Homo sapiens: one gene and its partners. The protein of the gene in region 1 purifies or fractionates together with the protein of each later gene. This does not show direct contact. Each region holds a gene or a part of one and is shown on either strand. Other genes may lie near its edges. The genes, in order: MIA3, MTMR14 and SCFD1.

Region 1 (2,864 bases):
TAAAATAATTTTAATGATTGAGAGTTTCCAACCCACTTTCCCATAGGAAGTGATTAATCAGTATCTCATAGTAGACAGTATTACTAGTGAATGAAGATGAATAGAGCTGTGCCTGTATAATTTGTGTACATAACATTGTTTCTCTTGGAAAATACTTCCAAGTTCCAGCACAGGACTCCAGGAATACACATTTCTTGAGAAATGTTTTTATCCAAGAGCAGCTTGGATAAGACCCGAGACCCCTTTGAAGTAGGAGACTTCGAAGAGTGTAGAGACTACTTTGTTAGAAAGGAGAAGCAGAGGTGGAAAGAACGTGGCCTTGGAGTCAAACCTGGCATGGAATTCCAGCCAGCCTCTTACATGCTGTGTGACCATCAGCAAATCTAATACTCTCTGCGCCTGTGTTCCTGCATATTTAGAACAAGATGGTCCTATTACAGATTTAGAGATGTCAGAATTTGTGTTAATATATGTAGGGCCTACAGAAGGTACTCTGAATAATCGCTGTTACATGGTAGAGAATGGATTTTTCATTCCCTTTCATTCTCTGCATTCTTAATATGGAAATTACTCTGATAGGAGGGATGTGCAGAGGGAGTGACTGCCTTAGAAATAGATGTATGAATGGCGTAACTTCTATCATTAGTCAGGAATGACCTCCATTTATAACCTGTGCGTTCCCTTCCATTTGCAGATGTAAGCAATAATATGATACAGCAAGTGTTCACTCCTGTGGCATACTTTTAACCTTTCTAAGCTTGTCAGTGGGAACAAATGAGAGGGGTAGAGTTTTTTGCACTAATTCTGCTCTTTGGACAAGTGCCTGACATCTGCTTCATTGGGTTTTAGTTTTTACTGGTGTTGGTGCTTTTGTCTGTCATACCATAGTATTTCAAAACTTCAATTGTTTCTACTCTGCAGGTTAATATGGCTCCAAAAGGGCCCCCTCCTTTCCCAGGAGTCCCTCTCATGAGCACCCCCATGGGAGGCCCTGTACCACCACCCATTCGATATGGACCACCACCTCAGCTCTGCGGACCTTTTGGGCCTCGGCCACTTCCTCCACCCTTTGGTAAGATGATCTGAACAGTAGTAATTGACTTGTAAAGCACATTCATCTTCTCCATCTATCCCTTGCTAAAACAACTGCAATTGCGGGGCTTTGCAATGCAGCAGTGAAGCTGATTGAGTACACCGTAACTTTTCCCCAAGTTTCTTCAGACACAAAGGGTGCTACATAATCTCCTGTGATTAGATGGGCAATAGTTGTCTCTAATAGAACAAGGAAAGGGGCTATTTATAAAAAGCCAGAAATATTCATCACATTGAACATCTGTGGCTGTGTACTAGGCTCTGCAATGGATAGCAAGGTAGATAAAATACATCCCCTAACTAAGATGTCCTGTAGGTCACAAATATACACATTCTACAACATAAAGCTTCTAATCACCCATAATGGAAGCATAAGCAGTAGGTCACAGAATATTAAGGAAAGACAAAACCCTCAACCCTCACCTTGGGAATACAAAGAAGGGAGATATGAAAGAGAAGGTAGAATTTAACAGCTATCTAATGAATGCTGCTGAATTTAATTAGATGGAGCTGGAAAGCCTTTTCCAGCAGGGCAAGCACCTTAATTTTTATGGCATTTATTAGGTACATCTTGAGCTACTGCATAAATTTTTAACTGATACACAGTAGTTAATGGAATTTATCAAAATTTTTATTGCAATGAAGCCATATTTAGTCTGTCTTCTTGGTATGGTATATAGTACTTCCAAGTACAAATCTATCTCTCTTTTTCAGATAAAGATGGCAGGCCAGGCACAGTGGCTCACGCCTGTAATCCCAGCACTTTATGAATCCCAGCATTCATTAGACGAGGCTGAGGCAGGTGGATCCCTTGAGCCTAGGAGTTTGAGACCAGCCTGGGCAACATGGTGAAACCCCCATCTCTACAAAAAATCCAAAAATTAGCTGGGAGTGGTGGCGTGCACCTGTAGTCCCAGCTACTGGGGAGTCTGAGGTGGGAGGATTGATTGAGTCCGGGAGATTGAGGCTGCAGTGAGCCATGATCACTCATTACACTCCAGCCCATGTGACAGGCAAGACCCTGCCGCCAAAAAAAAAAAAAAAAAAAAAAAAGGATGACAGACTATATTAACATACCTGGCATTATCTTAATTTAAATACGTTCCTAGGAATTTACTGGAAATAATTTTTGTTTTCCAGGCCCTGGTATGCGTCCACCACTAGGCTTAAGAGAATTTGCACCAGGCGTTCCACCAGGAAGACGGGACCTGCCTCTCCACCCTCGGGGATTTTTACCTGGACACGCACCATTTAGACCTTTAGGTTCACTTGGCCCAAGAGAGTACTTTATTCCTGGTACCCGATTACCACCCCCAACCCATGGTCCCCAGGAATACCCACCACCACCTGCTGTAAGAGACTTACTGCCGTCAGGCTCTAGAGATGAGCCTCCACCTGCCTCTCAGAGCACTAGCCAGGACTGTTCACAGGCTTTAAAACAGAGCCCATAAAACTATGACCTCTGAGGTTTCATTGGAAAGAAAGTGTACTGTGCATTATCCATTACAGTAAAGGATTTCATTGGCTTCAAAATCCAAAAGTTTATTTTAAAAGGTTTGTTGTTAGAACTAAGCTGCCTTGGCAGTGTGCATTTTTGAGCCAAACAATTCAAAAATGTCATTTCTTCCCTAAATAAAAATCACCTTTTAAGCTAGAGCGTCCTTACAACTTTGAAATGTGCAATAAAGAATACCTGTGTTTTAGCTAATGTAGCATATGTAATTGCAAAATGATTTAGAATGTCATGAAAAATATGAACATTTCCTGTGGAA
Region 2 (3,659 bases), on another chromosome or scaffold:
AGCCCATTTCCTCCTTTTATAGGGACTCAAACTCCTGTTCTGTACCAAGCTCTTCTTATGTGTAGTACCAATCATGCAGCTGTGACACATCTGGTCTCCAAATGTGCCTTCCAGGCTAGACCTCATGTCTCCTATGTATGGACTGTAGCCCTTGCCCTGTGCCTCAGTACCAGCTGTACTGGGTGAGATCTGGCAGGTTGGTAATCAGCATCATAGCTGCAAACTGGCAACTCTGTGGGGCTTTAAAACAAATATAGATGTCTGGGCCCTATCTCGGGCCTGCAGTACCAGGAACCCCAAGAGTGGGATGTTCTCTGTGAATCCAGGTGTGCAGTCAAGATGGGGACAGACTGCTCAGGTATTTGGCTGCTACCCAGTGGACTTCAACAGCCATATTTCAGGGGCACAGACTTGGCAGACAGAAGAGGAAGAAGCCAATCCACTCACCTGAACCAGTGACAAATACCCACGGACAATATGAACATGGCCATCTCTGGCCAGACACCCCATCCCCAACACAAGCCCCTGACCACAGCAACCCAGCACTGACCGAAGAGCACAGTCCTCCTCCGTGACGTCCTCCACATCTGCCCAGGCATCATCTGCACCCCCTGCCAGAGAAACCTATCTGTCAGTACTGAGGCTGGTGACCCAGGGCTCCACACAGGGGCCTCCTCACCAGCCTCCTTCCCCATAGTGCCAAGGGTGGGCTGGGACTACATGGCTCTACTCCTAAGGACACAGTATGCCCCCATATGCCTGGTAGTCTTCACCTCTAAGGTGAACTCCTGTTTGTCTCCTGGTCCCTGATCAAAGGAAGGCCCCTGATCTCCACCCAGCTCACTCAGACCCCCTACCTATACTATTGTGGTCATGGGTGGCTATTCTTTTTTTTTTTTTTTTGAGACGGAGTCTCACTCTGTTGCCCAGGCTGGAGTGCAGTGGCGTGATCTCGGCTCACTGCAACCTCCATCTCCCGGGTTCAAGCGATTCTCCTGCCTCAGCCTCCTGAGTAGCTGGGACTACAGGTGTGCATCACCACACCCGGCAAATTTTTGGTATTTTTTAGTAGAGATGGGGTTTCACCGTGTTAGCCAGGATGGTCTCGAACTCCTGACCTCGGGATCCGCTCGCCTTGGCCTCCCAAAGTGTTGAGATTACAGGCGTGAGGCATGGCGCCCGGCCCGGGTAGCTATTCTCTATGACTGGGTTCTCATTCTACATCAGAGGATGCTGTTCAACATTCACCTGAGAAAAAATAGTTGTAGCCTGAGCGTCCATACAGCTCTCCCCATCCAGCCAGTGTGGCCGACCTGCAAATGTGCTGGGAGAGAAACATCATTTTCACGGTCAGATGGTTTTCTGAAGCATGCACAGTTGAAGGAACATGTGGGACTCCTCTGACTCTTCCAGGCCAGCATAACGGGCCCAGGAGCACTCCCCAAAGTTTTATCAGCATCAAGGCTGCCACAATCAGTCAGAAGATCCCTAGTACTTAATCCACAACCTCTACTGAGGGAGTCTCACTCCCAAACAAGAGGCGCCAGTGTTACCAACAGGATCGGATCAGATTGGGTGGTTGTTGCATGTGTACCACGTGCTGGACATGGTACTGAAAAACCCATCATCTTCTCACTGAATTTTACAACAAGCCCATGAGGGATATGTGGCAGGTGGCATGCATTGTTGCTGTTACACAGATGAAGAAAAGAAAAACAGGCTAAGGGAGGTTAAGTGATGTGTAAGGTCATATAATGAGGGGTGAGCTGGGATTTGATCCAAACCCACTGACCTCTATGTGCTTACTGTGATTTGGAACTGTTCAGTGTAGACAGGAACAACCTTTCTAGCGGGGGCAAGGGGTGAGTGAGAAATGTTTTAGAGGCTTCTTTTCCTCATCACTGAAGGGATCACTGTTAAGAGAATTCTAGAAACGGGCAACTGGCACAAACCTCAATATCTAATTGTAAGGTTACTTGTTTAAAATAAATAGTGTTTGCTGAAATCTAGTTGGGTGGGGGGAATGGGAGGAGATACCTGGTGATGGGAAGGCAAACCAGCCCAGAATTTAGCTAAAGGCTAGGAGAACATGACCCTGTTACACTACAATGGGAAATGGCGAAGTTGTGAGGTGACAGACAGGGAGTGAAGCTCACTGCTGAATGGGTAACACAATGTGCAAATGGAAAGTGGATCCCTGGAAGATTGCCAAGTACCATCTGAAGGCTTCTCCATCTCTACCTGTAAGATAATGGGAAGGAAAGTTTTGCTGCTACAGCAAAGAGTTGTGCGTGGGAACGACTAGGTCACTTTCTGGCTCTATCTGAGGTAGCAGCAGACAAGGGGTGGGGACGTGGGGACAGCAATAGAAAAGCTACCTGGATATAACCTGGGACAGAATGAGGGGCATTATTGGTGCTGGGGCAAGAGCTGGTTTGTGGAGAGGCTGTCCTGGAAGCCTACTGAGGAAGCCTACCAAGGGCTGGCATTCCTGCTGGCTTAAGTAGGATGTACTCCAGTGGGGGCCACTTAACTTTCTGTGGGTCTAAAAGCAATTTGAAAATCTGATAAAAAAGTATGAACTATCTCCTGAAAAAAAAAATATGTACACATCATAATCTACTTACATTTCCAGGGATTTCTGGACTCTCTCAAGTCCACTGATGAACCCATTCCCAGACCCCGTTAAAAGCCCTTGCTTTAAGAAGTCAGTCAAGCAGTGAGGAGTAAAGTGGATGCTTCCACAGGAAAGGGCTGAGGACCTCTAAGACTCCAAGACGTTGGCAGGGTGTGTGGCTGCCTGTTCCACTGGCATTTGTATCATATCCACTCTCCCCGCTTCATCTAAGCTGCTGGCAGCTGACCTCACTCTCCTTTGCATTATTTCTGTTAAATCTTTCAGAGCAGATAGCTGCCTTCTTTTTGGCTGTTGAGTTCTGAGACCCTTTTTCTGTTCCCAATTATTCTTCCACATCCCTTCTATTGACCTTGTCTTTTTAGTAATTGAGGCAGCCAGACCTAGGCCAGCAAAACCCGAGTCAGATGGAGAAAAACAAGTTGGCCAAGTCCCCAAGTGGGGAACCAGCCTCTTCAGGAAGGCCCCTGTGGGAGGGCTGACCCCTCTTGATAGACACCTGTTCCTTTGCCTCATGGTTCTGACTCATAACCCATCATCTCTGCCCTTTAAGCTGGCTCCTGACTGAAAACGCAAGATCTACCCTGAATGCTCTCCATTTACCTAGTTAGGAATGGCCTCTAATACGGTCCGTGGAAAAGCACTCTGTATAATTTTCTAATTTAGTAACCTCTGACCTCTGCTCCCCACCTCTTAAACAAAAAGAAAGATGAATTGTTCCAGTTTCAATGGTCTAAAAGCCAGACTCAAGTGTTTGGGGAGAAAATGGTATGAGAACTTACTGTTCAATGCTTGAACTGAGTTTTGAAAAATTATTTAATATACTTTACTTAACCCATCATATCCAAGACATTATGTCAACATGTAATCACTTTTAAAATGAATATTTTACATTTTTTCTATTAAATCTTCAAAATTTGATGTGTATTTTACACTTAAAGCATATCTTAAGTAGGATGTGAAACTTTGGGCATTGGCCAGGTGTGGTGGCTCACGCCTGTAATCCCAGCACTTTGGGAGGCCA
Region 3 (3,175 bases), on another chromosome or scaffold:
TTCTTAACCAAATTACTCATCATCATTCTTTTCTAATCGTTTTTAGCCATCCAATGAAGTGTAGGTGTAATTTTAAAGAAACACTGTAGTTTACCAAACATTCCAGTGCAAACTTGTTCTTAATCATGTACAAGCTTGATGACCCCTTTACTTACTCTGTCAGTTAAAAATTGAACTTTATGGGCTGGGCGCAGTGGCTCATGCCTGTAATCTCAGCACTTTGGGAGGCCGAGGCAAGTGGATCACAAGGTCAGGAGTTCGAGACCAGCCTGGCCAGCATGGTGAAACCCCATCTCTACTAAAAATACAAAAATTAGCCAGGTGTGGTGGCGCATGCCTGTAATCCCAGCTACCCAGGAGGCTAAGGCAGGAGAACTGATTGATTGAACTCGGGAGGCAGAGGTTGCAGTGAGCCAAGACTGCGCCACTGCACTCCAGCCTGGGTGAGAGAATGAGACTCTGTCTCAAAAAAAAAAAAAGAAAAAAAAATCGAACTTTATAAAATGTACCAGTATATTGATTCAATGTAAAATTAACTCAGTGTAGTTCTTTCTCTAACCAATCACCTTCCATCAAGAGAATACCTTGTGGTTTTAAGTCAAGTTCCCAATTCATCAATATTAGTATTATCAAATGTTTTGATAAAATCAGTCAAATTATTTTTTACCAATTATACCAAAGTTATACCAAATAGCATTTACATTGTGAGTTAGATTAACAACATTACTAAATAAATCAGAATTACAGCAGTATTTTCTGGCACTTGCCCCTTATGTTGTGGACTAGTATAAACCAAGGGCCATGTTAGTTAATTCTGTATTGCCAGTCTCATGTAGGCATAGTCGCATGTTTAGTTTCATACTACGAGACTGTACTGACACAGGTTTCTAATGATGTGAGGAAGGCTGTCATAGACCTAGCTCAGTTCCTTCTTAATAGGGCTGAATGGTAGGGAAAAGATTAGGATTATTCAGGACAAAAAAACTAAAAGGGATTTAAAAATCCTCTCAGGACAATAAACTGGGGAGCTTAGTAGCTACTAAAAATTTAATGGATCTAAAGGGCATCTATGAATAATGTAATAAAATATATAATGGTCAAAGACTAGATGCTTTGCCCGTATGATGAGAAAGAAGACAAGGATGTCTGCTCTTGCCTCTTCTATTCAACAATGTACTGAAGGTTCTAGCCAGGGCAGTTGCAGAAGATAGAAAAGAAGCAAAACTATCTCTATTAATAGATAACATGATCTTGTATATAGAAACTTCTAAAAATCCATTAAAAACAATTGGAACTAATAAACTCAGCAAGGCTGTGAAACGTAAGATCAACATAAAAATCGGTTGGATTTTTATGCACTTGGAATGAGGAATCCAAAAATGAACTTAAGAAAATGCCTTTTGTCTTTGACAAAATTCAACAGCCCTTCATGCTAAAAACTCTCAATGAATTAGGTATTGATGGGACGTATCTCAAAATAATAAGAGCTATTTATGACAAGCCCACAGCCAATATCATACTGAATGGGCAAAAACTGGAAGCATTCCCTTTGAAAACTGGCACAAGACAGGGATGCCCTCTCTCACCTCTCCTATTCAACATAGTGTTGGAAGTTCTGGCCAGGGCAATCAGGCAGGAGAAAGAAATACAGGGTATTCAATTAGGAAAAGAGGAAGTCAAATTGTCCCTGTTTGCAGATGACATGATTGTATATCTAGAAAACCCCATTATCTCAGCCCAAAATCTCCTTAAGCAGATAAGCAACTTCAGCAAAGTCTCAGGATACAAAAATCAATGTGCAAAAATCACAAGCATTCCCAAACATCAATAATAGACAAACAGAGAGCCAAATCATGAGTGAACTCCCATTCACAATTGCTTCAAAGAGAATAAAATACCTAGGAATCCAACTTACAAGGGATGTGAAGGACCTCTTCAAGGAGAACTACAAACCACTGCTCAACGAAGTAAAAGAGGACACAAACAAATGGAAGAACATTCCATGCCCATGGATAGGAAGAATCAATTATCCTGAAAATGGCCATACTGCCCAAGGTAATTTATAGATTCAATGCCATCCCCATCAAGCTACCAATGACTTTCTTCACAGAATTGGAAAAAACTACTTTAAAGTTCATATGGAACCAAAAAAGAGCCTGCATTGCCAAGTCAATCCTAAGCAAAAAGAACAAAGCTGGAGGCATCACACTACCTGACTTCAAACTATACTACAAGGCTACAGTAACCAAAACAGCATGGTACTGGTACCAAAACAGAGATATAGACCAGTGGAACAGAACAGAGCCCTCAGATATAATACCACACATCTACAACCATCTGATCTTTGACAAACCTGACAAAAACAAGAAATGGGGAATGGGTTCCCTATTTAATAAATGGTGCTGGGAAAACTGGCTAGCCATATGTAGAAAGCTGAAACTGGATCCCTTCCTTACACCCTATACAAAAATTAATTCAAGATGGATTAAAGACTTAAATGTTAGACCTAAAACCATAAAAACCCTAGAAGAAAACCTAGGCAATACCATTCAGGACATAGACATGGGCAAGGACTTCATGTCTAAAACACCAAAAGCAATGGCAACAAAAGCCAAAATTGACAAATGGGATCTAACTAAACTAAGGAGCTTCTGCACAGCAAAAGAAACTACCATCAGAGTGAACAGGCAACCTAAAGAATGGGAGAAAATTTTTGCAATCTACTCATCTGACAAAGGGCTAATATCCAGAATCTACAAAGAACTCAACTTTACAAGAAAAAAGCAACCCCATCAAAAAGTGGGCGAAGGATATGAACAGATACTTCTAAAAAGAAGACATTTATGCAGCCAACAGACACATGAAAAAGTGCTCATCATCACTGGCCATCAGAGAAATGCAAATCAAAACCACAATGAGATACATCTCACACCAGTTAGAATGGCAATCATTAAAAAGTCAGGGAACAACAGGTGCTGGAGAGGATGTGGAGAAATAGGAACACTTTTACACTGTTGGTGGGACTGTAAACTAGTTCAACCATTGGGGAAGACAGTGTGGCGATTCCTCAAGGATGTAGAACTAGAAATACCATTTGACCCAGCCATCCCATTACTGGGTATATACCCAAAGGATTATAAATCATGCTGCTATAAAGACACATGCACAGGTATGT

The links.
Region 2: the proteins of MIA3 (region 1) and MTMR14 purify together in Homo sapiens (affinity purification with mass spectrometry, with the first as the bait; one large-scale study listed by BioGRID). This does not show direct contact.
Region 3: the proteins of MIA3 (region 1) and SCFD1 purify together in Homo sapiens (affinity purification with western blotting, with the first as the bait; one study listed by BioGRID). This does not show direct contact.

The regions. Positions count from the first base shown.
Region 1 is NC_000001.11:222,663,077-222,665,940, forward strand, and holds part of MIA3 (transport and Golgi organization protein 1 homolog isoform 1 precursor), read left to right. Parts: intron 1-921; coding exon 922-1,072; intron 1,073-2,232; coding exon 2,233-2,543; 3' UTR 2,544-2,864.
Region 2 is NC_000003.12:9,666,384-9,670,042, reverse strand, and holds part of MTMR14 (phosphatidylinositol-3,5-bisphosphate 3-phosphatase MTMR14), read right to left. Parts: intron 1,325-3,659; coding exon 1,249-1,324; intron 612-1,248; coding exon 551-611; intron 1-550. UniProt on the Homo sapiens protein: Lipid phosphatase that specifically dephosphorylates the D-3 position of phosphatidylinositol 3-phosphate and phosphatidylinositol 3,5-bisphosphate, generating phosphatidylinositol and phosphatidylinositol 5-phosphate.
Region 3 is NC_000014.9:30,730,315-30,733,489, reverse strand, and holds part of SCFD1 (sec1 family domain-containing protein 1), read right to left. Parts: intron 1-3,175. UniProt on the Homo sapiens protein: Plays a role in SNARE-pin assembly and Golgi-to-ER retrograde transport via its interaction with COG4. Involved in vesicular transport between the endoplasmic reticulum and the Golgi.